5 linked regions of the Homo sapiens genome follow. The protein of the gene in region 5 purifies or fractionates together with the protein of the main gene of each other region. This does not show direct contact. Each region holds a gene or a part of one and is shown on either strand. Other genes may lie near its edges. The genes, in order: TPP2, ANKRD33B, MAP3K21, SH3GL2 and NCALD.

Region 1 (6,034 bases), on a different chromosome or scaffold from region 5:
CTAATAATGCTTTTCTGTTATACTCTTCACAAGTAAGCAGACTCTTCAAAGTGTCATCTGTCATCTGAACGAAAATTCACAGCTGACGCCCAATAGCTGGAGCAGCTATGCTTCCTGTGAAATGAAATCTACAAAAAAAACTACCAGGGTTTCTTAAATCAGTGCATGTATTAATTACAAACCATTAACTATTGATTTACTTCAAATTATACTAAAGTACGTATGTATAAACAGTATAAACTGAAATGAGACCCAAGAAATGTCAGGGTAGGCAACTTTCTAAGCACAAGTTTCCCCAATTATGCTTCAATGACAGTAAATAAATGGCTTTTGGTTCAATAGTGGCAAAAAATAAATATAATTCTTAAGATGTATGAGAACTACTCATTTTGATAACAGCATTTATGTAGCAGGCTTACTTAGCTCTGTAAGAAGTAATAGTACAGAGAAATGCAAAACTGTTAAGAATGACAACTTTTACTGGCATTGAGCTAAAATGATTATTATGACAAAAGGTGATAGATCTATATAAACATCATTCTCATAATAAATTTGTAATGAAAACATAGAAGGAAAAAACAAAAACAGGTAGGTACTTATAAAACTGTAACATATATGTCTAAAGTACAACAACCAGAAACATATTTCTAAAAAAAGCATCATTTTGAAATTAAAAGGCAATACCAAAAGAAACATCTCATATTTTCCTACTTAACCATGTGAAATTCCAATGAGATAGGTCTGTAGAAGTGTGAAGAAACATGTTTTAGGGTAATTGTTCTGACTACTTTTTAAAAGCACCCCAAGATAATCTGATTTATTCCTATGTCCATAATCTTATATGGACAACCAATCTTATTGGTTAAATTTCTATAACATGTTCTAATCTTAAATATCACATGTATTTAAGCCAAGTTTGATTTGTATTTACATGTTTCACAGGAAGTTCAAGTGTATTAGCCGTAGGAGGTAAGACAGGTTCAGGGCCTGAGTACTGTAGGCTTGTGAAAAAGAAGCCTAAATATTTCAAAAGTAGCATACATTTTAAAAGACAACTAAATATTAACTGACTTTCACTAGTAACCTGGGAAAAAAGGATTAAATTTTTTTCCCCAAGAGTATATCTTCTCTTTTATCCATTCTGAAATGTGGAATTAATTCTTATCTTTAAAGAAATGAAATTTTTTAATAGGTAATTTCAGTGTTTAAAAAACTAATACTTACAGCTTTCTTTCCTAGTTCAGTCTTTGACAATGTTAAGGATCCTGCAAGATAGCATCCAGGTCCTGCCCCTTTAGGTATTCTAAACAAGAGAATTCAAAGAGAAAAAAAGCAACAAAAGAGAAAGTTTCACAAAGACAAGTAAGGGGAAAAACATGAAAACAATTCCACACTGAATTCATTCCCATAGCTAAGACTTCAAAAATCAAAGGAAGAAATACTTCAGCCAAAAAAAAAATGACTACATCCTCTAAATTTAGCCTAGATGTCATAAACTGACATTAAAAGGACTACAGTGTATACGATGGGCAGTAAGTATAAGCAATGTTATCACTTACTTATCATCAGGTAAGGAAGTAACAAAGAATGGCTGGTTATATTTGGGTGGTAATGTCAAATTGCTTGATTTCTTCTTCCCTAGAAGTGCAAAACTATGATTTTCATGAATATCTAAGCTCAAGGTATTAGACAATCTATGAGAAACAATAAATGGAAGGTCTTTAAGGCGTTCCAAATCACTGATTTGCTCATGGCGAATCTGTAGTCGAATTGTATAATCTCCTTTCTCCAGTTTCAAAGAATACTGAAAAAGAAAAACAACATTTGGGAAAAGTTAAGTTTAACCAAGTCAACGGAAATCACTGAAAGAGGATAAAGTGAAAGTTACCATTCACAGACTTGTTCATAATATGTGAGGTACAGTGCAAGGAACTAACTATCCAGACGTTCATATAACACATAAAGTCCCTAGTACGCTGGTGAGCAGACAGGATCAGGGACATCAAGTGACTTGCCTAACATCACACAGAGTAAAGTATAAGAGAGCTGAAGTCAGGTCTGACTTCAAAGCCCTCATTCTTTCCAGAACGACAGAATACTCCCACACTTTTAGCAAAACTCAGTGTCTGCTTGAGAATGACAAAAGCAGTGATTTTCTAGTTCATGGGTCCCTCAGAGACATATAAGAAACACTACCAAAAAAATGAGCAAAATTGAGGCACCATAGAATATCTAGGACAAATACACACACACACACACACACACACACACACACACACACGTGTAACTTATGACTACTGGTAATCCTTATTTCCTTTTAGAGAGGGGGACTCACTATGTTGCCCAGGCTGAAGTGCAGTGGCTGTTAACTGGTGCAATCATAGTGCACCATAGCCTAGAGCTCCAGGGCTCAAGCGATCCTCCCACCTCAGCTTCCTGAGTAGACGGGATCACAGGCATGTGCCACCATGCCCAGCTGATCTTCAAATTACAACCAAAATGTCACTCCTTTATTACAGACAGGAAAAAAACAGGAAACCAATAGAGATCAAGGGATACAAATCTATTATCCACTTAACAGGTTCAAGAGGAAGAGATGCTGTATCCTGTGTCAGCCACTTTTTCTGAGATTTAAAAAGTAACCAAAATAATAGCACTGCAGTAGGCCAGTCTGTAATGAGATGTGACTGCTACTTGCTTTGAGGAAAATCGATACCATTCCTTTAACAACTAATTGAAAAAAATCTCCATAAATTATTTTCATTTGTCAACATAAAATTATACATATTACAGGAAATATCTCATTTCTTTGCAGTAATATCTAAGGGATAAAATGTCTATAAATTATGTGATTTTTCCCTTCAATAAAACAGCACAAAGCATAGTGCCTGGTATGTAGTAAGTGCTCATTACAGAGTTGTCCAACGAGGTAGTAAATTTAAAAGTACAAATGAACTGAAGACATGCGGCCACTGCTGCAGTGCTCTCTTTAGCCCCCTCAGACTTAGGATCATTTCAAGAGGCTCGCATCTCTTTGATGCATGCTTTGATGATTCTACCTTCAGATAGGTAGAATCAGTGTATAGGAAGGAGAAACACCACACACCAAAAGTTATGCTGGCCAGTGTGGGCAAGGTTCACCCTTGTCCTCCTCTAATTCAGCACAACTACATGGTGAAATAGTTGACACCATCTGTTCTTCACCGACTACAACAAACAGGCTCTCACAGTTTGCAAAAGTACTAAACACAAAGCTATAATTTTTGTTTTTTTTAAAGTATGAACATTACCATAACAAGAAACCAGGATTTTGTTAGTTCAGGAAACAGCTTCCGTTAATTCTAAAAATCACCATCAATTTTATACCTGATGTGGATAGGCATCGCCTGAACCCATCTGTCTTTTGTTCTGGTCAAAAATAATCCACAGTTGGCTGTCAAATTCAGATTCATATAATAGTTCACAAAGTAGTGGGCAGCTTGGAGTTACTTCCCCACTCTTGGGCTATTAAAAAACAAAAAAGATTACTTGGCATGATTTGCATATAATTTCTGATACAAATTTTTAATATTGTTATTGACATGAGACTTTTTCATTTAAAAAACATTAAAAATACTTGTGGTAAAAAATTTTGAAAATATAGAACACACAGTATTTTAGCACTTATAAAAGTCACTGCTCTCTTACAAACTTTTAAAAATACACACCTGGCTATGTGTATTCATTAATAAAGCAACATATACATACTTCAGGACCTCTAATTACTTTATAAAACTGAAATGTGAAAATTCACTGAAACCAATCCATTTCCCTAACATTATAACCAAACTGATGTGTGTTTCAGTAACAGTTTTATTGAAATCTCATTGATCTTACAACAATTCTTTGGTCCAGCATTTACACTGGCCTCCATTACTTTTGCCACCCATCCCACCTGGGAGCTACTCTGACCTTTCCCTGTTCCAGTGCCTTCTTCGCAGAAAGCAATCAGGCCCAGCACCATCACCAGAAGGCAGATGGTATTTCTGAGCCATCTAATCACCCCTGGGTCAGATGGCACCAATGGACAGTGATCAGTGATTTTATAAACTAAGGCTTAAGGCTAGGTCACCACTCAATTACATTTTGTGACTTTACAACTGAATGGTATTTAATTACAAATTATAATTTCCTAAAGAGTAATTCCAAATTAACTGTTAATCACTTGATTCTGTTTTTTATATATACCATATACACTGTCCTTCCATTTTTGATTCTATGAATCATAAATAAAACACAAAAGTTCATCCTAAGGGTACACTTTACTAGGCAAACACTTACTTGATGAAAGTTATATGTCAGGACCATCTCATAAAGTTGACGGTTATTTGGCAAAACATCTCTTGATCCTAAAGGTTTTGTTTTTGCACTCACTGGGCTGTAATGAGGAAACTACATAACTGGTTTGATTCAAGAGTTCATTGAATGAGACAAATAAAACCATATGCAACAAAATCTGTAACATATTGCAAAAAGTGCAGATGAACCTTCCTGAGAGCTATCCTTTTCAGTATACTCTACAATATTTTAATCACTAACTTACATAATTATTTGATTGAATCATATCAATACATACAGTTTAGATTTTGCAATAAATATGACAAAGGCAATCTTTTCATGGCAAAAACATTTTCAAATGTGAACAAACAGCTCTCAATACAACCAAATCCTAACACTAGGGTGACAACTAAAAGTGTTGCAAGACAGGTTCTGATTTGTACCCCTTGTGCAAACTGTTGACAGTACTGTGTTGTGTGCAGCACAGACCTCCCCAGACCCCTGCTGCTCACCAGATGGCAGGGGCCACACTCAGCCCTCCTCCTGGCCGAGGGAATGTTATTTCATATTTTTAGTAGTCCTCTGAAGGAAGTTGCTAATGTACAGATTTTATAAAGGAGAAAACTGACACTGAAGAGTAAGTTTTAAATATAGTTTAAAATGTCAGTGAAACATAATCTACTCTAAATTTAGCTCCAATTTTTTAGATTTAGGAAGAAAACATCAGGATGATATAAGTTGGATATATCTTCAAAAGCTGGATGTTTTAATTTTTATTGATAATTCTAGGAAGCAGTATATCTTTAGACATCACCGTGTCACTGACTATTGTCCCTAATTGGTTATTTTAATACACTTAAGACTAGGCTTCATGCCGATGAGTTAAGGTCAGATTAAACAAAAGAAACCAGGTATCTTTATAACACAGTGAGTATGTGAACACAGGTCAAGGTGCCCTGCTTTTGTAAGGGGAGCTGCTGAGGCACAAACAGCAGGCTACAGTACTTAAGTTTCTACCATTTAATAAACAGTTTCTAATGGTATTGCAGTTTCTAAAAATGACTGCATTAGGATTCACAAAATAATATCAGAGAGAATGTTAACTTGCTATTTTACAGCAAGAAATAAAAAGGTTAATGTCCACTGATCCTAACTAGTCATGACTGGGATCGGCTATCCACCATCCTTGACTTTGCTGGTCAGGTGGGACAGTGAAGCTAGAAGCTGATACTGGGGCTGCCTTGCAGAGATCTGCTGGCAAGGATAAAATTCTCACCTCTAGCATGCAGGTGGATTAAAAAAAAAAAAGGCCCTTTTTTAAGAGTGTAAGAGATCCCCCCAATCTATATTCAATATCTGTAGTTCCTAAAACATTGAATGATACCGCAGTGTTTGGACCCAGTTCTTCAAAGTTATGCAGGGAGCCAGATCTTCGTATTTCAAGGAGGACTGAACATCAAAGCGGTTGATTCCTTCCGATGCATGCTACAAAGGATTTCTCAAATTACTTTCTCAAACTTTACTAAAAATAAGCAATATTTTGTACCTAAAATAAATGTGTCCAATATAAAGTTTATAAGTACCCACACACAAAGCCTACTGCTATCTTCAGAACCACAGGTAATTTCCCCTCATTAAAGTTTAAATCTAACCAATGAAGTTACTCTCCAGTAACACAAGTAACTGACATTAAAAATCATGAAAATGTTGTGGAACT
Region 2 (6,034 bases), on a different chromosome or scaffold from region 5:
GGTGACTGAGCCCTAAAGAGGGTTCTGCCTCCTGACGAAAGGGACCAGCATGGTTGGTGCTGCTGCAGCTTCCTGTCTGAAACACATATTGGGTGATTCTCGTGGAATCAAGGGGTGACAGATCAACAGGCTAAGGGGAGCCAAATGGACAGGAGGAAACCACTGTTGTCCTCATGGAATCCAGGGCCAGCTCTGGAGGGTGACTGCCAACCTCAGACTTCCAGGGAGCTGAGAAATGCGGCCTGTTTTCTTTAAGCCACTGTCTAGTCAGGATTTCTGTTACTTGCAGCCAAAAACATTCCAAACAGGTGCTAATGGGAAAAAAAAATCTATACTTTCCATCACTCATTCTCAAGAAGGCTTTCTCTGGGAGCCATGGCCAGGCCCAGGACTAGCAGGAGGTGGGTGGAGCGTGAAGCCCTGAATGTGTCACTTCCTTTCCTGCTTCTCCACCAGCCCCCACCCACCCCCATGTTATCCACTCTACAAACCCTAGCTCAGGTCTCCCTCTTGCCAGGGGGCCTTTCCTGGCCACAGGAGACCACTGTGGACCAGCCCTCACTGCCTCCCCTTGTGCCACCTCCAGCCTGTATCTTGGGCATTGTGGGTATAATCGGGATGACAAATCTGGATGCAGGGTCCAAGAAAGAGCTTGTGCTCCAGCCCAGCAGGGAGGACAAGCCACCCCCACCACATAGCAGGTGGGAAGTGTGCTCAAAGTTCTCATCTCCCCTCAAAGAGGCACTGGAGTTGGGAAATAAACTTCCCAGCATCTCTGCGATATCTTTTCCTCATAGTGGAGGGTCCAGGGGGTCTGAGTCCCAGCTGCCCACAAGAGGAACCTGCTCATTGGTGGACATTTCTTAGCTTCCATTCTTCCCAATCTCACTTGCTGCCCCCTCACTCCACTTCCTGGGGCCACCATCCCTCAAAACTACTTGCCCCCAAGTCCTTGTCTCGAGGTTTGCTTTGCAGGTGACACAGAATGCTTGACTTTTCATCCTTTCTCTGGCTAATGACTTCAAACAATTCTACATGGCAAATTCACACTTCATAGGAAATTTAAGTTTTCCTTATAAACAGAAAGAAACCTCTATATGGTTGGAAATCATCTGACTTTCCAGAAAGAGATATCAGGGCTTCCCTGAGACAAGAGCAACCCTCTGACCCACAGCGGGAGCATCTCTGATCTCTGTTCCTCGCCGTCCTTTAAATCCACTTTGCGCCTTGGAATCACAGGAAGATTTGAGGTTATTGCTGCTTGTTTTTGCTTCCTGAAGGCTGCGGCAGTTACACCACACTTCAGGTCTGAAAGTGAGCTCCCTTAAGCAAGCCTGGAACCTGGCAACCTCCACAGATTCTGCCTCTCTTCAGAAAAAAATCACATCCTCGATACGCTTCTCAGAGCCACCTATTTAAATAGACCTGTCACTGTGGGCATTAATATTTCAGTGAATTAACAAGGTTCTGCAACTCCCTTGTGATGCTCTTCAGCAGAGCCTGCATTACTCCTTACGAAGCCAAACCAAAGATGCAATCGATCAGCCTCTCAGAACCCGGTTATACTTTTTATTACAATCTGAAGTGTCAATCTAAAAGAAAGGCTCTGGCTATTAGTTTCTTTAAATGGTTTATTTTTTTCTTAATATCACGTATTTAAATGGAAAGAATAAGACTTAAAATATTTGTGTGAATTTTAGAAATATATCAACATCTGTCCTTATTGCTCTCCACTAATCCTGGGGAAGCAATTCAACACTTTTTTTTTTTTTTTTAATTCTTACCCATCTACTGTCAAAGGAAAATAAAACCCACTTTTCTTGGGAGAACTGTAAGCTTAGTAGTAATAGTAGAAGATGAAAATATTCCGTAAGTTCTACACTACAACCAAAGCTTAAGAGGGCAGCTCAAAAGTTCCCTAAACAAGATGTCACTTCTCTTTTTTTTTTTTTTTTTTTTTTGAGACAGAGTCTCACTCTGTTGCCTAGGCTGGAATACAGTGGCATGATATCGGCTCACTGCAACCTCCGCCTCCTAGGTTCAAGCGATTCTCTTGCCTCAGCCTCCCGAGTGGCTGGGATTACAGGCTTGTGCTACCATGCCCGGCTAAATTTTTTTTGTATTTTCAGTAGAGGCGGGATTTCACCATGTTGGCCAGGCTGGTCTCGAACTCCTGTCCTCAGGTGATCCACCCGCCTCAGCCTCCCACAGTGCTGAGATTACAGACGTGGGCCACCATGCCCGGCCAAGATGTCACACTTTTATTTGAGGGAGGAATACAGAACAAGCGAGGAAGAGTACACAGAGGGGAAAATGTCTCTTCTCACTTTGTATATCCTTTCCCATTTAAATTATTTATATCAGTGGTTCTCGATGGGAAGCAATTTTTCCCCCAACCTGGGAGACTTTGAGCAACATCTAGAGACATTTTTGGTTGTCACAACTGAAGAGGTGCTACAGTCATCTTGTGGGTAGAGGCCAGGGATGCCACTAAAAATCCTACAATTTGAAAGACAGCCCCCACAACAAAGAATTATCTGGCTCTGCATGTTAGTAGTGCTGAAATTAAGAAACCCCTGGCCAGGTGCGGTGGCTCACACCTGTAATCCCAGCACTTTGGGAGGACGAGGCATGCAGATCACAAGGTCAGGAGTTTGAGACCAGCCTGGCCAATATGGAGAAACCCTGTCTCTCCTAAAAATACAAACATTAGCTGGATGTGGTGGTGCATGCCTGTAGTCCTAGCTACTCAGGAGGCTGAAGCAAGAGAATTGCTTGAACCCAGGAGGCAGAGATTGCAGTGAACCGAGATCGCGCCACTGCACTCCACTCTGGGCGACAGAGTGAGACTCCGTCTCAAAACAAAACAAAACAAAGCAAAACAAACAAACAAAAACAGAACAAAAAAGCAAAAAACAAAAACCCTGAGGTAGGGGCTTACTACCCTCATTAAGAAAGTTTAAGTATCTCATTTACAAGATATTTCTCAAAGGGAAAAACAAACCGTATTTTTTCATTCACTTAACAGATAACTATTGAACACATAAACTCACCAATAATCATAATAATAACAATAATCACAACCAACATGTCCGAAGGCTTCTCCAAGCCCAGCATGCACCCGAGGGCTGTTCTGTTGTGAACGTGCCCAATCCGCATCCCACCTTCCTGCGGTGGGTGCTATCATTAGCCTCATTTTATAGAAGAGGAAACTGGGGCCCAGAGAGGTGAGTGACAGGCTGCAGGTGTAGAGATGGGAAGTGGAGAAGATGAATTTGAAACTGGGTCCTGGTTCCTGGACTGTTTCTGTTCAGCTCCTGCTCTGTACCTCGTATAGGACAGGGAGAGACTCACTAGAGGATCCCACAGACAATAATCCGTGGATTGTTCTAGACTGTGATGGGGGATGGGCTTGCAAAGTGGAGAATAGGGGAGGGAGAGTCTCAAATCTAATGTCAAATTTGTATCCAAATAACTGATGGGGGAAGAGCAATGTCAGCAGTAAACCCACTGCCCGCAGACTCATCGTTCCAAGAGATGTGCAAGGTGTTTCTGGAATCCTCTAAATGCTGTCACACATGCCTGAAACCCCCAGGAGACCCAGGGAAGAAAGCACGGCAGTCAAACGGAGCGATTAGAGGGCAACTGACCTAAAAAAGGTTTGCAGTTCAAATTAATTCAATGGGAAAGTGCAGTGATGTGACTGACATCATAAATGTTCAGTTGAAAAAGTCAATTACCAAACATCTACGCCCAATTATAACTAGATCCAGAAATAGTAAAAGTGTCTGAAGCTCCCGCCAAACACAAAAGCATCACATAATTACCATTTAATTAGTAGGAACCATTTCTCATTGATGAGGGCAGGCAGGGCCGAAACTCTGTTGAAACTGATATCTCGTTTTTTTAAAATAAAACTATCATCTCTGAATCAAAAGTACAATCGATAGGACTCGTTTTTAATTATGTTTTTTTTTTTATTTCCAAGAAAGTTTTCATCTTTGAAGCCTCTATTCTCATTCACTGAACTTATTTTTATTATAGCATCTCCTAAGACTAAAGAATCCCCTAAGGTTAAAGCAAAAAGAAAGATAAATCTGAAGCAATTGTGAATCCTGTAACTCCAGATTGATCTCGAGAAAAACAACAGACGGGCTCAGACTGGGCGGTGCTGCACACTGGTTGGAATCAAGACTGTCCCGTCATGGGCAACAGGTTATGACAGAAACTTCACAGACCCAAGAAGATGAGGGGCAGGGCGCGGTGGCTCACACCTATAATCCCAGAACTTTGGGAGGCTAAGGCGGGCAGATCACGGGATGTCAGGAGTTCAAGACCAACCTGGCCAACATGGTGAAACACCGTCTCTACTAAAAATACAAAAATTAGCTGTGCGTGGTGGCAGGTGCCTGTAATCCCAGCTACTCGGGAGGCTGAGGCAGGAGAATCGCTTGAACCCGGGAGGTGGAGGTTGCAGTGAGCCGAGATTGCACCACCGCACTCCAGCCTGGGCGACAGAGTGAGACTGTCTCAAAAAAAAAAAAAAAAAAAAAAAGAAGAAGAAGAAGAAGACTGGGGACAACTAAGAAGAAGACAACTAAATGTGGGAGCCCAGCAGGGGTCCTGGAACAGAAAAGTGACATTAATGGAAGCACTGATGCCTGGGAAAACTCTGATGCCACCCTCAGGATAACCAAGACAGGGGTGGTGCTGTGGTCTGAATGTTGACGACCCTCCAAAATTCCTATGCTGGAACTTCAGACCCACTGGAATAGTATTAAGAGGTGAGGCCTTTAGGGGGTGATTAGATCATGAGGGCTGTGCCCTCCTGAATCAAACTAGTGCCTTATGAAAGAGGGTTTGAGGGTACCTCGGTGTCCCCTCTGCCATGAGAGGAGACAGTAAGAAGGAAGGGGCATCAGCAGACATCGAACCTGCCGGCACCTTGATCTTGGACTTCTCAGCCTCCCCAAGTGTGAGCAATAAATTTCTACAGTTACAAATTACACAGGTGAGGTATTTTGTTATAGCAGCAGAACAACTAAGACAGAGAGGAAATCCACTTCTTCAGGAACTTGCAGCGCCAAGCAGGACTGGCTGAACCCAGTGCCAAGAACAAAAATAAAGAGAAATTAAAATAACAGAATTAAGTAATGGTGAAAGCAGCATCGCACATTCACTGAGATGTCAGCTGCTAACTGAATCTAACACGACATGTGCTTGACACATATTTTCTCATTTAATTCTCAAAATAACCCGATGAGGTTGCACGAAGGATGATCATTGATTCTATTTCAGAGTGAAGAAAAGAGTTAAAGCTATTAGTTGTGTGGCATTTAGCTTAGTAGCTCATTGAAGCTGGATAGCCTCTAGGAGTGTATAAAGTATTGTTGCATTTTAGCCTCAGGGAGGTGAGGGAGAAAGAGGTCATTACTCCCATTTCACAGATGGGAACAGGAAAGTGCGTTCTCCAAGATGGCGCAAAAGACAAAGAGGGGTTGATCCAGGTTGATAGCCTGAGAATTTTCCACTCTATGACACAGCATAGAAAACGGAAATTGCCACACACATCACCATGCAATACCACGTTGCCTCCTAACATTACCACGCAACTCCACATCACCCGCTAACATCACCACACAACTCCACGTCACCCGCTAACATCACCGCGCAACTCCACGTCACCCGCTAACATTACCACGCAACTCCACGTCACCGCCTAACATCACCGTGCAACTCCACGTCACCCGCTAACATCGCCGCGCAACTCCACGTCACCCGCTAACATCGCCGCGCAACTCCGCGTCACCCGCTAACATCACCGCGCAACTCCACGTCACCGCCTAACATCGCCGCGCAACCCCACGTCACCCGCTAACATCGCCGCACAACTCCACGTCACCGCCTAACATCGCCGCGCAACGCCGCGTCACCCGCTAACATCGCCGCGCAACTCCGCGTCACCCGCTAACATCGCCGCGCAACTCCGCGTCACCGCCTAACATCGCCGCGCAACCCCACGTCACCCGCTAAC
Region 3 (6,034 bases), on a different chromosome or scaffold from region 5:
AAGCTAGAGAATATTTTCCAATTTTGGAAGTAGTTAGAAATGTAACAAACCTGCACATTGTGCACATGTACCCTAGAACTTAAAGTATAATAAAAAAAAAAAAGAAAGAAAGAAATCAGAGAGAAAATGTAGTCTAAATTAATTCAGTAAACAAATTGTGATGCTAAAAACTAGGCTTGAATTGTAAATGATAAACAATGTGGTCAAACCAATGTCTAAGTAAGTTATTTTAGTTTTTATTATTGCCATTCTGACAATCTATGATAGTACAGTCATAAAGCAATGACCGCAAGCTTATGTTTCTCTCTCTGTAGATGTGTTTTCTTGCAGCAGATCATACTACACTACTCCTCAATAACCATCAATGGCTCTCCCTTGCCTCTTAAATAGTCCACACATCTTAGTATGGCATCCATGGCACTCACTGCCTGACCACATGCGAAATGCCTGTTTCCTTCCCCCCCAAAAAAACCCTTTCTCCACTTTTCATTCTAGTTACACCTAACTACTCATTGTTCCCTGAAAAAGCCATATGTTTTTATGCCAGTATTTACCTAATTGGCTTTAATGGGTTAAGAAACATTAAACAGATTTTCCCTACAGGACTTCTGACAGATCTCCCAAGAAACGAATACAGTATCAGAAATCAAGACAATCAGTCTCAATGAAGTTATATAACTTGCTCAAGGTCACACAGCTAGTAAATGAGGACACTGATATTCAAATCCAGATCTGACTGACTTTAAAGGCAATGCTAGATAGAGCCAGAGGTGGTGTCTCTTACATGTAATCCCAGCACTTTGGGAGGCTGAGGAGGAAAGATGATGGCTTGACTCCAGGAGTTTGAGACCAGCCTGGGCTACACAGCAAGACCTTGTATTAAAAAAAAAAAAAAAAAAAAAGTCCAGGCACGGTGGCTCACACCTGTAATCCCAGTACTTTGGGCGGCCGAGGCGGACGGATCACGAGGTCAGGAGATCAAGACCATCCTGGCTAACACGGTGAAACCCCATCTCTACTAAAAATACAAAAAAAAATTAGCTGGGCGTGGTGGCGGGCGCCTGTAGTCCCAGCTACTCGGGAGGCTGAGGCAGGAGAATGGCGTGAACCCGGGAGACGGAGCTTGCAGTGAGCCAAGATCGTGCCACTGCACTCCAGCCTGGGGACAGAGCGAGACTCCGTCTCAAAAAAACAAAAACACACACAAAAAAGCCAATGCTGTTTCCCTTAGCTGCACTATTCTGGTAGGTTTAGCACTTAAATGCTAGTGTGAAAAAGCAGGGCTTACAAATGACCTTCTTAAATGGGTAGAGCAGATAAATACTTTCCTCTGTCTCCTTTACCCTGCTTTGATATACTTGATAATGATTACAAAACTGATCAAATACGGATACTTTGCATAATTCAGAACTAACTAGCTATACCCCTCACAACTACAAAAAAATAAGACATTGCCTATTTTTTTTTTTAATTTTAATATTTGTAGTCCAGGGTCTCACCATGTTCCCCAAGCTGGTCTCAAACTCCTGGGCTCAAGCGATCCTCCCACCTTGGCCTCCCAAAGTGCCAGGATGATAGATAGGTATGAGCCACTACACCTGGCCAGCTACTTACTTTTTAATACGCAAACATGAAAATGATGGGGGAAGATGTGGTGACTCTTTTGTGATTGCCATTCTTCTAAAAGTCTAATCTTTCACTAACTTTGTTTCAAAAGCAGATGTAGATCTCAGTTACCATTGGGACATCTGGACTGACTTCTCTGTGCCTCCTGGAATAGGAAGCAGCTATAGCATGAAGCTACATGTCCTGAGTATAAGAACAGAAGAGAGAAGGAACTTATGTCTTACAACTGATAATAGTGAAATTAGTAGCTTCCCCAAATCACTCTGATGAGCTATTTAAACATCTTATCTGGAGATTACATTTTCCATAATTTTCTCAGATAGTTCTTTTATTTACACAGTACTAATGAAAAAAAGCTAAAACAAAATTTATATTCCTTTTGCAGTTTGTCATAGTAAGAGCTCCAAATGGCATTTCATAATAAATACAACTATTGTAGTTGTAAATAATACTGTAGATAGATAATAATTATTCCTAAAAGACTAAAAAAATTGAGATAATAAATGCTTAATCACTGACATAAAAAGTATAAAAGTAAGTAGCTACCATAATTTGTGGCTCAGTTCCCCATGGAAAGTTTATTTCCTCTTAAGAAAAAAAAAATAGAACACAATAAGCAACATCAAAAAAGAAAAAGGAAACCATACATGATGCCACATAATCTTACTTCAATCTTGCACTTCTGCAATTTGATAAATAAAACTCTTAAACAAAATTCTAATATTTCAAACCATCCTTGGGAATTCTTATATTGCAGTATTTTATCTTCACTGCCCCCTGGTAACCTCCCTGCAAAATACTTCCATTGCTACCACTCTGGGCAGAGTCGGTGCCTCCTCTCATATAGACAACCTTGAAAGCCATCACTTGAGCCCACTGCAGTCCGTTCTTCACAGAAGCCAGCACCATCACTCCAAGTGAAACCTCCATGTGCACAGCAGAGGGAGGCCTGCCAGGCCTGCCCCACGCATGCCTCTCCTCACCAGCCTTCTCCTTAGGCCTCCAATATGGAAGGCTCATTTTTGCTTCCTCTTTCCTTTGCCTGGGTCTTTGCTTGACGAATTCGTGGTCCTTCCTCGGAGTGCCTTCCCTGGAGAGCCCCTGTGTGAAACAGCACCCCCATCCTCCACTCTACCACTCTCCACCCCTTACCATGCTTAATTTTCTTGATGGCATTTTCTAATCTATTTGTTATTACGTGACTGCCATCTATCTTCCCCGTTAGACTAAGCTCTATGATGGCAGATTTGTTGTCATTGATGTCTGGCTTGCCAGTGTCCCTGAGGCCCAGAAGTGACTGGCACAGGGTGGGCATTCCAACAGTGTTGAATGAGTTCCAGCTCTCCACAATGTTTCTCTCTTCTGTAAATGCGCATAACACTGGCGATTTTCACAGTAACTCAAAGTTGCCTTGTATTGTTCTCTGGGGGGTGCCTATAGGTAGACTTATATAAAGTATTTTCTACTTATTTTGCATCCAGAAGGGAGTTACAGGGCCTAGTATTTATTTAAAACATAAATGTTGCTTAAAGCTTGCTAACTTGGCACAACTTTCAACCTGTTGCTACCTGTTAGAAAAGGGACAAAGTTGTTTATATCATTCACAACATATCAGCTATTATCTAGACACAGACATTCCCTCACAAGATATGATAAAACTTGAGAAGATCTACTAGAAAAGATAAAAGAAAATCTGTCAAGAGTAACATATTCTCTAGACAAATTTAAATATTTGTTTAAAACAGTAATTTCCACTGAATTGGCTCCAAGTAGTCTTCTATTAGCTCTTTGGTACATGAGTACACTTCGGAGTGAAAATAAAATTCAATATTGATTTTTAAAACCTTGTTTACGTTATCACTAACTCACTACCACCATTAGCAAATATCCAATAAAATCAAACAAAACATACTGCAATAGAGTATCTGTTATACTTAAAAGTCTAAACAAGAAGTCATAGCTTCATATATCAGCAGAGAATTTCAAATCTGCATTTATTCATTGAACAAATAAAATCAGACATTCAGGATAAAGACCATGTATGAGGCACCATGGTTTGCACATTCTAGACCCCAGTCAAACTCTTCACTTTATAGTAATTAAATAACTATGATAATGGTCATATTGTAACAAATACTTGGCCAGGCTAGTGACTAGCTAATTAAGTCTTTTATAAGAGTGCAACAATTTAAAGCAAAGGGAATCCTGCCTGACAATTATAGAAATTAAAATACTCCGGGAAGTTTGGCAATTTATTCTGAGACTGAAAAGTCTTTCAAAAACTAAGTAGCAGCATGTAATCACCATCAAATTATGTAATATCTACTGAATACACAGTAGTCTATACTCCACTATACAAGTTTTTCTGGTGTCAGTAAAAACTGTTCGGCCATAGTTATTATTCCAGGGTCATGTTATTTCTTTTTACCATTTAATAATATTAGGAGTTCTTTAAACATTTATATTTTATAAAAGTTTATAAAACTTTATAAAACTTTATAAAAATTTACTATTTGCAATAATTGCTATGGATTGTTGATTGATCCATAAATCCTATGGATTAACCCATAGGAATGGATAAACATCCTTTAAAACATGCTTTAAAAACACTAGCAAACATTCTCTACCCTGTGTTGTATGAACTTTGAAAAGTATTGCAACCAAACAAAACTAAGTGCAGTGTAAAAGTAATAGCTATAGGCCCTTTAACTTTTTAGCCTAAGGACCAGTACAACCCAAGTGTTTGCTTGTGTTGATGATTTGGATACATTTGCAGAATGTTGGGTTCTGTGTTGTCACAGAGTTGCTGCAACTGCCAAGAGGCAGGGGAAAGAATGAATGGTGCTGTTGATGTCCTTAAAATACCTGGTTCTGCAGAAAACTCCTAACAGACGCAGGCTTTCAGGACACCATTGGAAATAGGGCTTATGGAACACATGGACAAGTCACCCATTCTATGGCAGCACCTGGTCAGACGTTTCTTTTATTGAAAAAAATATATATATATTATCGAAAGAAAAGTATATTTTAGGAAATTGCGCTCTGTTTTTACTGTAACACAGTTCAAAAGCAAGCAATGCTATAGTCCTTCATGTGGTCTGTCAAAGTACTAAGAATACACCGCTACCAGTAACAACATATTTTGTTAGACTTTGCTCTCATCACCTAAGCAGATGCAATCTAAATTATAGAGAGACTTGGGGGGAAGGAGGATCATGAAATAAAACCTAATGCTTATGCTTAGCTACAACATTCCAATTATTTACAATTCCCAGTGAAAATGCTACATTAGTAATTTTCAAGTAAATTTCTTCTTGTCACTCTTCTTTAGGGACAATGTTTTCACTTGAGCTAGCTCCTGTCCTAGCAGGTTTCACAGGATTGAAAGACCTCCAGCTGTTGTAGGCCAATGCCAGGGCTGGCTGCATCCTTTAACCTTCCCTGGGATTTCATCTCATTATAAGAATATGAAGCGATCTTCAATATTAAAGAACCAACATCAAACAGCAATTCTATAGGCTCTTTTATACAGCAAAGTTTCATAGGATTTGCATTTAAGTCATTTGTCAGTTCTTTATTGACATCTGGAAAATCCACCCTGATTTATAAACAAAGTCAATGACACTGGCCAGGTCTTCAAGGTTTCAAGTACCTGTGCAAGGACAATGCACTTGTTATTAACCCAAAAGTGCATTACGGTGCACACCAGTGCCTCTTGTCTGGAGAAAAGAAGCCATTGAACCAATAATAAAATCATATTTCACGTAGAGACACTTTTTTTTTTTTTGAGACAGAGTCTCACTCTATCTCCTAGGCTGGAGTGCAGTGGCGCGATCTTGGCTCACTGCAACTTCCGCCTCCCGGGTTCAAGTGATTCTCATGCCTCCGCCTCCCGAGTAGCTGGGATTACAGGCGCCTGCCACTACGCCGGGCTAATTTTTGTATTTTTAGTAGCGACAGGGTTTCGCCATGTTGGCCAGGCTGGTCTCAAACTCGTAACCTCAGGTGATCCGCCCACCTCGGCCTCCCAAAGTGCTGGGATTACAGGTATGAGCCACCGCGCCTGGCCCATAGAGAGACATTTGAATGAAAACAGTCTTTGGAAAAGGTAAGAGACATGAAGTCATATTTTGAATAGGCAAACAGCAACCTCAATACAGCACTTGTAAAGTTGACGTCCCCGAGTGCATTCGGGGACTTTGATGAAGGCCACCGGGTGAAGACGGTCATGGGTTCCATATAATCTGCAGAAGGCCTCGGTTTGCAAAGTCCTACCCAGATGAATCACCTCTGGTATTGAAAGGCCAGACTGCCCCCTGAGGTTTCTAGGAGATCCAGGTATTTTACAAATGTTTCCTCTACAAGCAAGTCTGGTCTGAACTTTTTTAAAAAGCACCCAAAGGCAAGT
Region 4 (6,034 bases), on a different chromosome or scaffold from region 5:
TCTGCTTTATGTTTCTTTCAAGCATTATTCTGTGATACGGTTTGGCTGTGTCCCCACCCAAATCTCATCTTAAACTGTAGTTCCCACAATCCCCATGTGTCATGGGAGGGACCTGGTGGGAGGTAATTGAATCATAGGGGTGGTTACCGCCACACTGTTCTCGTGATAGTGAGTGAATTCTCACGAGAGCTGACGGTTTTATAAGGGGCTTTTACCCCACTTTGCTCTGTACTTCTCCTTGCTGCCGTCATGTGAAGGACATTTTTGATCCCCCTTCTGCCATGACTGTAAGTTTCCTGAGCCCTCCCTAGCCATGCAGAACTGTGAGTCAATTACACCTCTTTCCTTTATAAATTACCCAGTCTCGGGTATGCCTTTATTAGCAACATGAGAACAGACTAATACATAGCTTGATATTGAGATGTTTCTCAGCATTATAAAACTGCTTCCATTAGTATCTATGGGGAAAGGTTAGTTTGAATTATAAAAAAGATATTTCTATTTTTTATATATATCATAATTCAAAAAAAGGCAGAAAACACTGCCTAGAGGTCCTTCAGTGTCCTAAGTATCCAAGTAAACCTCCATGGAGCTGTGGGTTCTTCACGAGTATTACAGACAGCTTCTCCATATTCATTACTACTATATACAATTTGACCCAGGGGATGGCGGAGGGAGATTAGGGTAGAGCAACTACAACATCATATTTGGCATTTAGAAGTTGTACTAAATGTAAAACCTTTATAAATAGTGAAATTATTTCCTGAAGCATTTGTCATCAGCTAATGATTTAGTATAGCATGAAAATATTTTGTTGGTAGAATGCAAAAGACTTGGCAGGGTCTCACAATCATGGCATTTTAATAAGTATAGTTATAGCTCTCTTTAGTCTTTATTATCCATCGGATACCATGTACATCATTCTTAAGCTTTTAGGCTCCTTAAGTGATTATGGAAACAATAAATTCTAAACCAAAAACACTGAGAAGGGTTGTACTACAAAGTTTCAAAACTTCACATGTTGTCTCCTGCTGCCTCTTGCTGCCTCAACATTCATTCCCACATACGCTAACTGTGAACACCCCACCCAGGTAACCAGGTGCACAAGTTTGATAAGGTTGGCCCCTACCACAAGTTCACCTCTCTGTCTTCTTCTGACCACGACCTACCAATGCACCAATGCAACGCACTGTGAACTGCACTGAGCTGTGAACTGCACTGAGATCACTAGTAAAGGCACTTGCCCACAGTCCTTGCTCTCTCTGCTCCCACCTGTTTCCCACCTGCTTAGCTGATCCTGCTCTCAGAGCTGTCACCTCCACCCCACGTGTCCCCCCTCCTATCCTCCTGTACAGTGATTGTCATTCTAAGACATGTGAGTATAATAAACTCTGTTTTCTTGAGCCTCTCCTATGTCCCCTCTTGTGGCTACACCTCACTGAACATTACCTAAAAGAACACAGGACAAGGGTACGAAGGATTAAAAGAACAAAAAGAGAAAAAAGGAGGCCAAAAAATCCACTGACTTCTTACCTACTTAGCATCTCCCCTATCTGGCCTTAAATTGAGAAGAATTGCTCATCTCTAGAAAGCCCCATCAGGTATCCACCTTAAAGTTTGAAGCAGTTCTTAAACTCCATCTCCTCACCTAATTCTCATTATTCATTTGTCAGTGTGTCCTGCCCTTCTCTCGCCGCTGCCTCAAGCTACTCCTCTGAAGAAAGCCCTCGGGTTGCTTGATGCCCTGAGACTCTGTATGCAGCACAAGAGGCTTGGCAGAATGGAATCTGCTCTGCAAGCTTCAGCTCCCTTCCCCTGAATATTAAACCTCTCCCTTCCACAATGACATCTGTCTCAAAACAGTCACCATTTGCCCCAACCAAGTCTTGCCATTTTCTAGGGTACTTCTAATTAATTTGCAGGTTACTTTAAAATTTTCTAAGTAGACTGAAACCAAAATTCATATAAACTCAATTTAAAATATTAAAGAATCACTATGGGGAAAAAAGCTTGCAAAAATATAGCTGTTTCAACAACACAAACTTCAATCACGAGGACTCTCAGTCTACAGAGAAATCATTTTCAGTCACCACTTTCTTTTCATATACCCCACAGGCCCGTATCGTTGACTTCAAGCGCATTAACAACATTTTGTTTTACATGGTTCAAGTGATCCTTATTATGCAAGCATGGCACTCTCACAAGCATTACCTCATTCAATCCTGACACCTCTGGAAAGGTTTTTTACATTTGATTGCTGCTAAATTAATGCAGAGAAGGCTGCATTTTGATCAGGCATCCTAAAGCCCAGTAACAGAACTGTTGGAGTGATTATTGTAAGAAACATCCACTTTCTCCTGATGACATGATGAATTTATTTATTTATTTATTTGAAACAGAATCTCACTCTGTTGCCCAGGCTGGAGTGCAGTGGCACCATCTTGACTCACTGCAACCTCGGCCTCCTGGGTTCAGGCAATTCTCCTGCCTCAGCCTCCTGGGTAGGTGGGATTACAGGCACCTGCCACCTCGCCCAGCTAATCTTTTTGTATTTTTAGTAGAGACGAGGTTTCACTGCACTGGCAAAGCCGGTTTTGAACTCCTGACCTCAAGTGATCCGCCCGCCTTGGCCTCCCAAAGTGTTGGGATTACAGGAGTGAGCCACCACGCCCCACCCTATTTTTACTTTTCGAGGGGAGGAAGGGGCAGCAATTAGGAATTTATTTAAGAATCTGGTAACAGGCTAAGGGCATTCTCCCTCAGAAAAATGCATGTATAAAATGTTACTTATAATTTTATAAAATATATAGGCCCCTTGCAGCCTATTAGAGACTACTGGCTAAGAATGTGAAAGGGTACAGGTGTAGAAATCCTGGGTCAAGCAACAAGCCACAGCCAAGATTTTAAAGGCAGCAGAGAGTTGACTGCTTAGAGGCAATTAAGAAACTGAAAATCTCACTGAGATAAAGTCATAACTAATTAGATATTTAATCCAATACTTAGTAAGTTTAACATCTCACCAAATCAACAAATGCATGAAAAGACTTATGTAATGGTCTCCTGAGCAAAGCATCCATATAAAATACAGCATTCTGAAAGAGGAAATTAGGTAAAACAAAAAGACACAGAACACAAACATGATGAAATTTTCCCAGTTAAGGAATCTGAGTGTGACAAATAAACATATACCAGACTGTATCATAAAACCCAGCCTACCCAAATTAATTTTATCATTTAAAAAAATCAGAAAACACAATTTATAATAGGTATATTTCTGACTTAGTCTGTTCAGGCTACTAACAAAATATCTTAGACGGGGTAATTTATAAATAATAGAATTTATTTCTCACAGTTTGGGAGGCTAGCAGTCCAAGATGAAGGCACTAACAGATTTGTGCCTGGCTAGGGCCCACCCTTTGCTTCAAAGATGGTGCCTTGTTGCTAAACCCTCACACGGTGGAAGGGGACAGGGTGACCCCTTCAACTTCTTTTAAGAGAGCACTAATCCCATTCATGACTTAATCATGAGTGCCCTCATGACTTAGTCACCTCCTAAAGGCCCCATTTCTTAATACTGTCACATTGGCAGTCAAGCTTCAACATACGTATTTTAGAGGGACACATTCAGAACTTAGCAATATACTAACCAACTCATTAAAAAAGGAGAAAGTATATCTTTTTGATGCAATAGAAAGTTATATGTTATTTATAGGCTGAACTGTCCTCTTAGATGTTGAATCAAATATAGAATACTGTGGTTAATCCTTTTATGCAAATAACGACTGTTATGGATTGAACTGTGCCCCTCCCAAAATTCATATTAAAGTCCTAATTACAATAGCTCAGAATGCAACTTTATTTGGAAATAGGGGCATTACAGATGGTAATTATTTAAGATAAAATCATACTGGAGTAGGATGGGCTTGCCCAATCCTATATGACTGGGGTCCTTACAAAATGGGGAAATTTGGACACTGAGACACACACAGGGAGAATGTCATGTGAGCATGAAGGCAGAGACCAAGGTGATGTATCTACAAGCCAAGGAAGCCCAAAGATTCCCAACAAAGCACAAGAGCTAAGAAGGCAGCCTCGAATAGATCCTGTCTCATACCTTCAGAGAGCTCGTGGCCCTACTGGCACCTTGGTCTCAGACTTCAAGTGTGCTTGTCTCAAGAAGTGGGAAACAATGTATTTCTGTCGTTGAAACGACTCAGTTTGTAGTACTTTGTTACAGCAGCTCCAGCAAACTCATAAAATGACCTAATATATTTTACTTTATAATAGACTTTTACATATTGTAAAGCAAAATGTGTCCACATCATATGCATGATAGAGTGAATTTTTAAAAATACAGATTTTGTAGGAGCTTCATGTTCACTGGAAACAGCTATTTTTAACTAAGCTGCTGCCAGTTTAAAACAAGTGTAAAAAAACTGACATGACTTTTGTAAAATGAAATCTCAATATGAATAAAACTCACTAAAAGAGCAACACAAGATCATCTGCCCTTTATTACAGTAAAAAAAGAATACTTTATTCTAATTATACAGTAAATTATATCTTTATGAGCAATTAAGTAATGAAGTACATGAAAATAAGATGATCAATCAATTTTTGGTATCATTATATATTTTCATGCTGAAAGGATTTTCTTCTCTAATAAATTTTACTTGGCAAAAGCATTTTTTTACCTCCAAATTGTAAACATATTGAAAATAACTGTCAGCAACAAGGTAGAAATAACCAATTCTAATATAAGACAACAGTTGTGACACATTTAATCAGAAATTCCAAGTACAAACAATATACTGTTTTATTTATCATCGCTTACTAACACAAGCAAAAAAGCTCAATTCCATAGAAAGAAACGTTTGCGTGAACAGACTCCTTCCACTTATAAACCCAGGCTATAGGCCAGGTGCGGGGGCTCAGCCTGTAATCGAGGCGGGCAGATCACCTGAGGTCAGGAGTTCGAGACCAGCCTGGTTAACATGGCTAAACCCTGTCTCTACTAAAAATACAAAAATTAGCTGAGCGTGGTAGTGCATGCCTATAATCCCAGCTACTCAGGAGGCTGAGGCAGGAGAATCGCCTGAACACAGGAGGCAGAGGTTGCAGTATGCTGAGATCACGCCATTGCACTCCTGCCTGGGCGACAAGAGTCAAACTTTGTCTCAAATGAATAAATAAATAAACAAACAAACAAACCCAGGCTATATTATCCAGCACATCAGTTCTCAAAAGGAAGTAATTCTAGGTCTAAAGCTTCTCTGTAGATAACATCAGGTTCACGGACCTGATGGAAAAAAATGGCTACAAAAGTAGGACAGGACTATTTCTCTAATTTTTTTGTCACATGCAAACATTAACATGGGCTTTACATACTCTCCTAAATATACATATGCACAGAACAGTCACCTGTGCCTTAGACTTTCTAAGAGTGTGCTACACTAAATTATGGATAAGAGACTACGTGCTGCTTCACCTTTCAAATAAAAGGCTTTTCAGTAAAAGGAAGACAATGACGCAGTGATTCTGCATTTGGATTCGGTGTGATAAACATTAACCGTATCGCATCACATGCCGACCTTCTCCAACCTTTTAAGTTCTTTCCTAACGCAGTTTAAATTATTTTTTCTACACTTTAGGGCGACACAGAACTTCAAGATTTAGCGGAAATGGAGCGCTCTATTTTTTAAGTTGGAAAAACTAAAAGGTCTAGCTTGGGTAACTTCTTCACAGCATAAGGGATAGTATTTTATACTAATAAAAATATCCTTTATGTCAATAACTATAATTTATTGAACACTTTATACGTGTGTTCTACACACTCGTTTCTCTTCACCTCAACCCTGAAGAGACAACGGAAATTATCATCACTTCAGCATGGACAGGTTCAGAAGTTAAATACTCTCTCAAGGTCAGAAGCAGCAGAGGCAGGATTCAAACCTTAGCCTTTCCCACTCCAAAGCCAAGACTCTTAATTGCCTTTGAGGGCACTAAGCTTTGCAAAAGAAATCTTTAGAATCCA
Region 5 (6,034 bases):
TCTAGGACAGATGATACGAGTACTGCCATCCACACTGCACTCTCCTGCAGGGAGGGTCCCAGTCAGTGGGGGCCAATGAGCGAGATCTTGCTAAGGCATGCAGTCTGGCCTCAGTGTAGCCCAAATCTTTTCCTAGAACCAGCAACAGCATTAACCTGTAGGACATTGTTCCAAATTTCCAAAAGCTCATTTGTAATTTGGTTGGTAACAGAAATATATTTTCCTCCAGAAATTAGGTTAGGTTAGGCCAAATCACAAAAGTCTATTTAATAATCCATATGTACCTGAAGTTTAGCCCTCTACACAGGCATTTCACTCATTTCTAATTACCCAAATGTCCCAGTTACTCTGATTGCCTAAGAAATTACCCCCCCACACCCCAAATCTTACGGGCTTAAAACAGTAACAACTTTTATTTTGTCCATGAAACTGCAACCTGGGGCAGAGCTCAGCAGGGATAGTGCATCTGTGATTCCCTGGCATCAGGAGGGGGAAGGAAGACCTGATGACCGGGCCTGGAGTCATCTGACAGCTTGCTCACTCACATGCCTGCCAGTTGATGCTGGATGTCGGCTGAGACTTTAGCAAGAGATGTTGGCTGAAATACCTACTCTTGGCCTCTCTATGTGGTCTGGGTTTCCTACAATATGGTGACTGGATTCTAAGGGAAAATGTCAAGAAGAAAAAGAATAGCAAGAGAGAAAAAAATTGTATTCTTTTTATGATCTATCCTTGGAAGTCACCTAGCATTATTTCCACTGTACTCTATCAGTTGGACCAATCATAAGCCCATTTAGGTTCAAAGGGAGGGGCAATAGACTTCACCTCCTGATGGAGAGGAGCAAGATTCTAGAAGAACATATGGTAATGCAGTGGCTCATGCCTGTAATCTCAGCCCTTTGGGAAGCCAAGGTGGGAGGATCTCTTGAGGACAGGAGTTCAAGACCAGCCTGGGCAACATAGTGAGACCCCAAGTCTATAAAAATAAAAACAAAAATTTAGCTGGGCATGGTGGCATACGCCTATAGTCCTGGCTACTCAAGCAGCTGAGGTGGGATGATTGCTTGAGCCCAGGTTTGAGGTTACAGTGAGCTATGATTACACCACTGCACTTCAGCCTGGGCAACAGAGTGAGAACCCATCTCTAAAAAAAAATTTTTTTAATGTGGTAATGGATTCAATTGTAAGGCTATTTTTGAATACAATCTGCCACAACATATAACATTAATTCTGGGGAAAATACAATATATAATAGTAAGTCCTCACAACATCATTGACAACAAAACCAATTATTTTTTCTCATTAACATTACAACAAAACGATGTTGAATGAAATGACGGTATTTGAGGCTCTGCTGTATATTCCAAGTTGAAAGGCAATATAGTATAGTGAATAAAGAGCCAGGACTCTGAAGCCAAATGCCTAGAGCTCTATTGTATACTTGTGTGACACTCAGCAATTTGTTTAAGCTCTCTGTGCCTCAATTTCCTCATTTATAAAACTAGAATGTTGTTAAAAAATAGTTACTTTGAAAAGAACTTTGAAGACTATCCAGCTTCCTAAGTGTTAGCTATTATTATAATACTCTTCCAATTCTGACGGATTCTTCCTGCCTCCTCGGGGGATGGTGGTGGCAGCACTACCAGAAGTAGAAGATTAATAACAGCAGTTCACATTATTGAGTACCTAATACCTGTCAGTTTCTATGCCAAGTAAATTGACTCAAAAATCCAAGAGGGATGCCCTAATATTATTCACATAAGAAAACTCTGATTTAGGTAACTTGCTCAGAGTATCACTAGCAAGTGGTAGAAACAGGCCCCTGATCAGTTTAACTAGATAGAAGGAGCCTGAGTCCCTGGAGGACTGTGTGGAGCAGAGCCCTTCGCCCAATCCTGATTTCTGGGTGAGTGAAAAATGAACAGTGTTGGATTATGCCATTAAGATTGGGGGCTATTTATTACAGCAGTGACCCTGTCCTGACTGGGTTAGTACAGGGAAGACGGGAGAGATATTTTTGGAAATATCACTAATTTAAAGACTCCTTTCATAAAATACAATGGTTTTCATTATTTGTATGAAACAGGGTATTTGCATAAAAGAAAATACTCTCTAGGTCGGTCCCTACCAGTCTCATTTGTCTTCTGAACTAGAGGACAAATAGCCTCTGGCCAACTGGGAATAGGACTGAGCATACCGACCTGGAATCCCTGACACTGATGGGAACAGATTGCTCACAAATGAGGCCGGCTGTTCACCAGCTGCAGAATGTCTCTTCTGGGGTTTCACTCTGGTGTAAAACCTAATGGTTCCCAGGTTGTTTGTCTGTTTTGTTTTGATGTTCTGTTTTGTACTGTTTCCTTTTAGAATTCTCTTTTGGACTGCAGTGGCCAGTGTGGCTGTGGGAAAGAGAACCCCAGTTAATAGTACATATAGGTCTCTGGGCAAGTTCTCTACATAGTTAGACTGCATATTCCATGATGGAAGGGACCTGCCCTGTCTTGTACCTTATAGCAACCCTGGGGTCTGGCTCAATGCCTGACACGTAGTATGTGCTCAAAATTTGCTGAATGCATGAAAGACTGAATGTTTGAATAAAAGCTCAAGCAAACAAAAGCCAGGGTCCATAAAGGCCCTTGGGTTCTCTATGCCAGCAGCATATCTCACTTGAGGATCCCATCAGGGGAGGACCTCACATGCCTACTATAATACTGTGAATGCAGTAGTCCGTTAATAAATGTTCGCCAATTGAGTGACTGTGCTGCACATGATCCATGATAAGATGTGGGAAGGTATAGGACGGGGAAACTTTTGTGAGATGCTATTTTTGATCTCCAACGATATTGTAAATATGGTCGTCACAAACCTGATCATGGTTTGAGTTATATGAATCATATCAAAGTCTGTGGGAGTCAGCAGAGCAGATAGCCAAAGAACACAACAGTTTTCTTGACATTTACCTCTAATAGATAGGGCTTAAATTCATTAAAGCAAACAAAATCCAAAATCATCTTTTAAAAAAATTCATCCTTGCATAAAAGCAATGTGCAGCCTTTGGTCTTCCTGCAGTCACTGGGAGAGATTCAGAAAATGTGAACAATCCTCCCATGAAGACAGGCAACAGCTGGAATGTCTTTCAGGCTAGAGATTTATTTCCTACAAATCAAATATAAAACTGCATTGTGACCTGAGAATATTCTGGTTTACATTAATGTAAACTAAATTTTAAAGGGATGCCGTGTCTTTATTTAAAGGCACTTATGAAAATACATGCAAAAAACCCCCTAAAGTTCACTACTGAGATAAAAAGGGCAGACTGTTTTTAGTTTGGCTCCAGTGAATTTCAATATTTATCATATAATTTTTATATCAAAATCTTAGTGAACATTAACTTTTATGGTATCACTTCTGAAAACAATAAAAAATACTACATTTTGGAATGCTATTTCTAGTTAGATTTCCATCATGAAGCACCAGTTAAATAAATGTGGATTTTATGAAAAATAATGGCACATTCCTTTTTGAAAAGTTTCAAACACCTGGCTTGAGAAGCAAACAGTACAGCCTGGAGTCAGAGATTTTAAACTTTTTCCAAGTTTCTTTATCAAGTTGCTAGAGACTCAAAGCTCCCAAGGCAAGTGTTCTTTTCTAATCCAAAGAATAAGAAACGTTTGAGAACATCTCTTTCGTAATTCCTTTGAGAACACACGAAGACAAATTGCTAAGCTTCCATTTCAAATGCGAGGGATTTGGATTGAATTTAAACAACAGCTTGTGCAAAATGTCATAGCTCCCATTCTCTTACGCGGAGACAGTGGGTGTTGATGTCATAGAAAGGATGACTTTGGACATTCTGAATATAGGGCTGTGACGGCAGCTGACCAACTGCAAAGTTACGCTGTTGGTTTGGAGAGGAATATCAGGCACTATTTTCTGCACATTTAAAGAAACATGTTGAATGAGACAACTACTTACATAAGTCACACTAAACAATACTATTAATACCCCCTGTATTGGTCTTAAATATCCAATAAGCCAAATAAGGTTCTGCATTCAGATACTTGGGAAGTGTCTCCACTTCCAGCTTAATTTCAAACATGCCTCATCCTAGAGACCTCTGTCAGATAAACCTTTAGGGCTCTCTCTTGAGTATCTGGAATTAACATGACAATTGATCAATTCACACGTGTATGTGCTTTACATTAAGCTGGAAAGCCACATGCATTCTTTAATGCTTGCTTCAAATGCTATGAGCACATGAACTACCTTCTGTGGCCCATGGTTTTAACTCGCATAACTTGTACTAACACTATGAGTTTTCCTCTTAACCCCTGTCTAACCAGGTAAGGGTTTCCCAATCCAGGGGACATAAGACTGTTGTTAATGGATCTCAAGGAGGAAAATAAAAGAAAGTTACAATTTGGTAGCTATGTGAACATATTATTCCTTTTCATGCAGAATTTAGAGAACATTGCAAAATTCACACACTCGAAGAATAAAATCCGATGCGGTGGAACCGAATGTGGAAATGGGGTGATGGGTTTTGTCCAGTGCAGTTCTATCACCTTTTGGCATCACTAACGTACATATCAATTGACTCAGGGGTGGATAAAATTCAAGAGGGCCTGGGGAACTTGGTTGGGAAAAATATTATATCTTTAGTTTCACTAACCTCAAACTGAAATTTAGTATTTCCTTCAATTAAAATGTAGGCCACAAGCCACAGCACCTGTGATATTGTTGCCAAGAGAAATCACAGATATTTTCACCTCATTTTACAGTTGTTGTAGATATCCTGAAATATCTTTTATGCTCACCATTACTTCAAAATTATGGTAGTTATGGTAGTTATTATAACTGCTGTTAGTTTGTATTATGTAATAATGTGTTACTAACAAAGCATGTATCACAATTTTGTAAAATTTAGTTAACGTTTTTCAATGAATGAAAGTGGTTTGATTTGTAAACCTGCATACTTTATTTTATGCATGTAAAAACATAATTCTGAGAAAAGTACATAGGCTTCACCAGGCTGCCAAAGAGGTCCACAGCACCAAACGGGTTAAGAATGTCCGAAACTATACACAAAATATTTAATAATGCAACAGCCAGGTTTCTAGAGTACCTCGTTCCTTGCCAGCATCTTTTGAAGCTGCAACAAACATGACCTTGAAATCAACATAGTCTCAATGCTGTAAAATGATTCTGATGACAGTCTTTTTTTCTCTTATTTTCCCATAGGAAAAGACCTGTAGATTCTAGAGCATCTCTGCTTTCACAGCATAGGTTGTTTTCTTTTAGTGATAAACTTCATCATTGAGATTTTGCCATCAACGCTGAATTATTCTCTTGTATTTCATACCGCTGAAATATAGTCTATTTTGAAAGAGCATTGAATACAATTATTATAAGACTTTAATTTAAAATGTCATAGAGACAGCACCAAGAAAATCTCTGCTACCTGGAAAAACTATAATGATAATTCCACATTTTGAGTAAAAGAAGTAAATGTCAAAGTGTACCTCATCAAAGATAGTGCTGTTAAATGACGGTGCTACTGGTCTTATCTGTGCTCAACTGAAATGTTACATATAAATTATCATTTTTCTAGGGGTGTTAAGAATATGGCCTCTGGGTTATTATAATTTTGAGATCAATTAAGTGATGAGATTATGTCTCAGTAGATGTGCCTGGAATGAAAGCACATTAGACTTTTGGAAAATCCTCCACGGAGACCCTGACCAAAAACAGACATGTCAAATGCCAGCAAGTTAAATGAATATTCACTCATTGAAAGCTACTGAGAAATTATTGATATACCCACAGTTATTCACTTATTACTGTAGCTAAATACTGTTCAAAATTTTTCACCTCCAAGAGTAAAATAAATGCTATTAGAATTCTGAAACTAATAAAGAACATAAAAATTAAAACAATATATTCTTGCACTAAATTACGATATAATTCACACACTGTGAATATATGGTATTCATATATACAGTTAAACCAGTTTCTTCTACTAATTAAAATACTA

Evidence for each region.
Region 1: the proteins of NCALD (region 5) and TPP2 purify together in Homo sapiens (co-immunoprecipitation; 2 studies listed by BioGRID and IntAct, with this or other methods). This does not show direct contact.
Region 2: the proteins of NCALD (region 5) and ANKRD33B purify together in Homo sapiens (affinity purification with mass spectrometry; one large-scale study listed by BioGRID and IntAct). This does not show direct contact.
Region 3: the proteins of NCALD (region 5) and MAP3K21 purify together in Homo sapiens (affinity purification with mass spectrometry; one large-scale study listed by BioGRID and IntAct). This does not show direct contact.
Region 4: the proteins of NCALD (region 5) and SH3GL2 purify together in Homo sapiens (affinity purification with mass spectrometry; one large-scale study listed by BioGRID and IntAct). This does not show direct contact.

Annotation. Positions count from the first base shown.
Region 1 is NC_000013.11:102,644,677-102,650,710, reverse strand, and holds part of TPP2 (tripeptidyl-peptidase 2), read right to left. Parts: intron 5,803-6,034; coding exon 5,702-5,802; intron 4,418-5,701; coding exon 4,321-4,417; intron 3,505-4,320; coding exon 3,367-3,504; intron 1,805-3,366; coding exon 1,560-1,804; intron 1,304-1,559; coding exon 1,225-1,303; intron 1-1,224. UniProt on the Homo sapiens protein: Cytosolic tripeptidyl-peptidase that releases N-terminal tripeptides from polypeptides and is a component of the proteolytic cascade acting downstream of the 26S proteasome in the ubiquitin-proteasome pathway.
Region 2 is NC_000005.10:10,639,747-10,645,780, reverse strand, and holds part of ANKRD33B (ankyrin repeat domain-containing protein 33B), read right to left. Parts: intron 1-6,034.
Region 3 is NC_000001.11:233,329,033-233,335,066, reverse strand, and holds part of MAP3K21 (mitogen-activated protein kinase kinase kinase 21), read right to left. Parts: intron 1-6,034. UniProt on the Homo sapiens protein: Negative regulator of TLR4 signaling. Does not activate JNK1/MAPK8 pathway, p38/MAPK14, nor ERK2/MAPK1 pathways.
Region 4 is NC_000009.12:17,580,861-17,586,894, reverse strand, and holds part of SH3GL2 (endophilin-A1), read right to left. Parts: intron 1-6,034. UniProt on the Homo sapiens protein: Implicated in synaptic vesicle endocytosis. May recruit other proteins to membranes with high curvature. Required for BDNF-dependent dendrite outgrowth.
Region 5 is NC_000008.11:101,783,654-101,789,687, forward strand, and holds part of NCALD (neurocalcin-delta), read right to left. Parts: intron 5,377-6,034; exon of another isoform or gene 5,126-5,376; intron 2,400-5,125; exon of another isoform or gene 2,202-2,399; intron 1-2,201. UniProt on the Homo sapiens protein: May be involved in the calcium-dependent regulation of rhodopsin phosphorylation. Binds three calcium ions.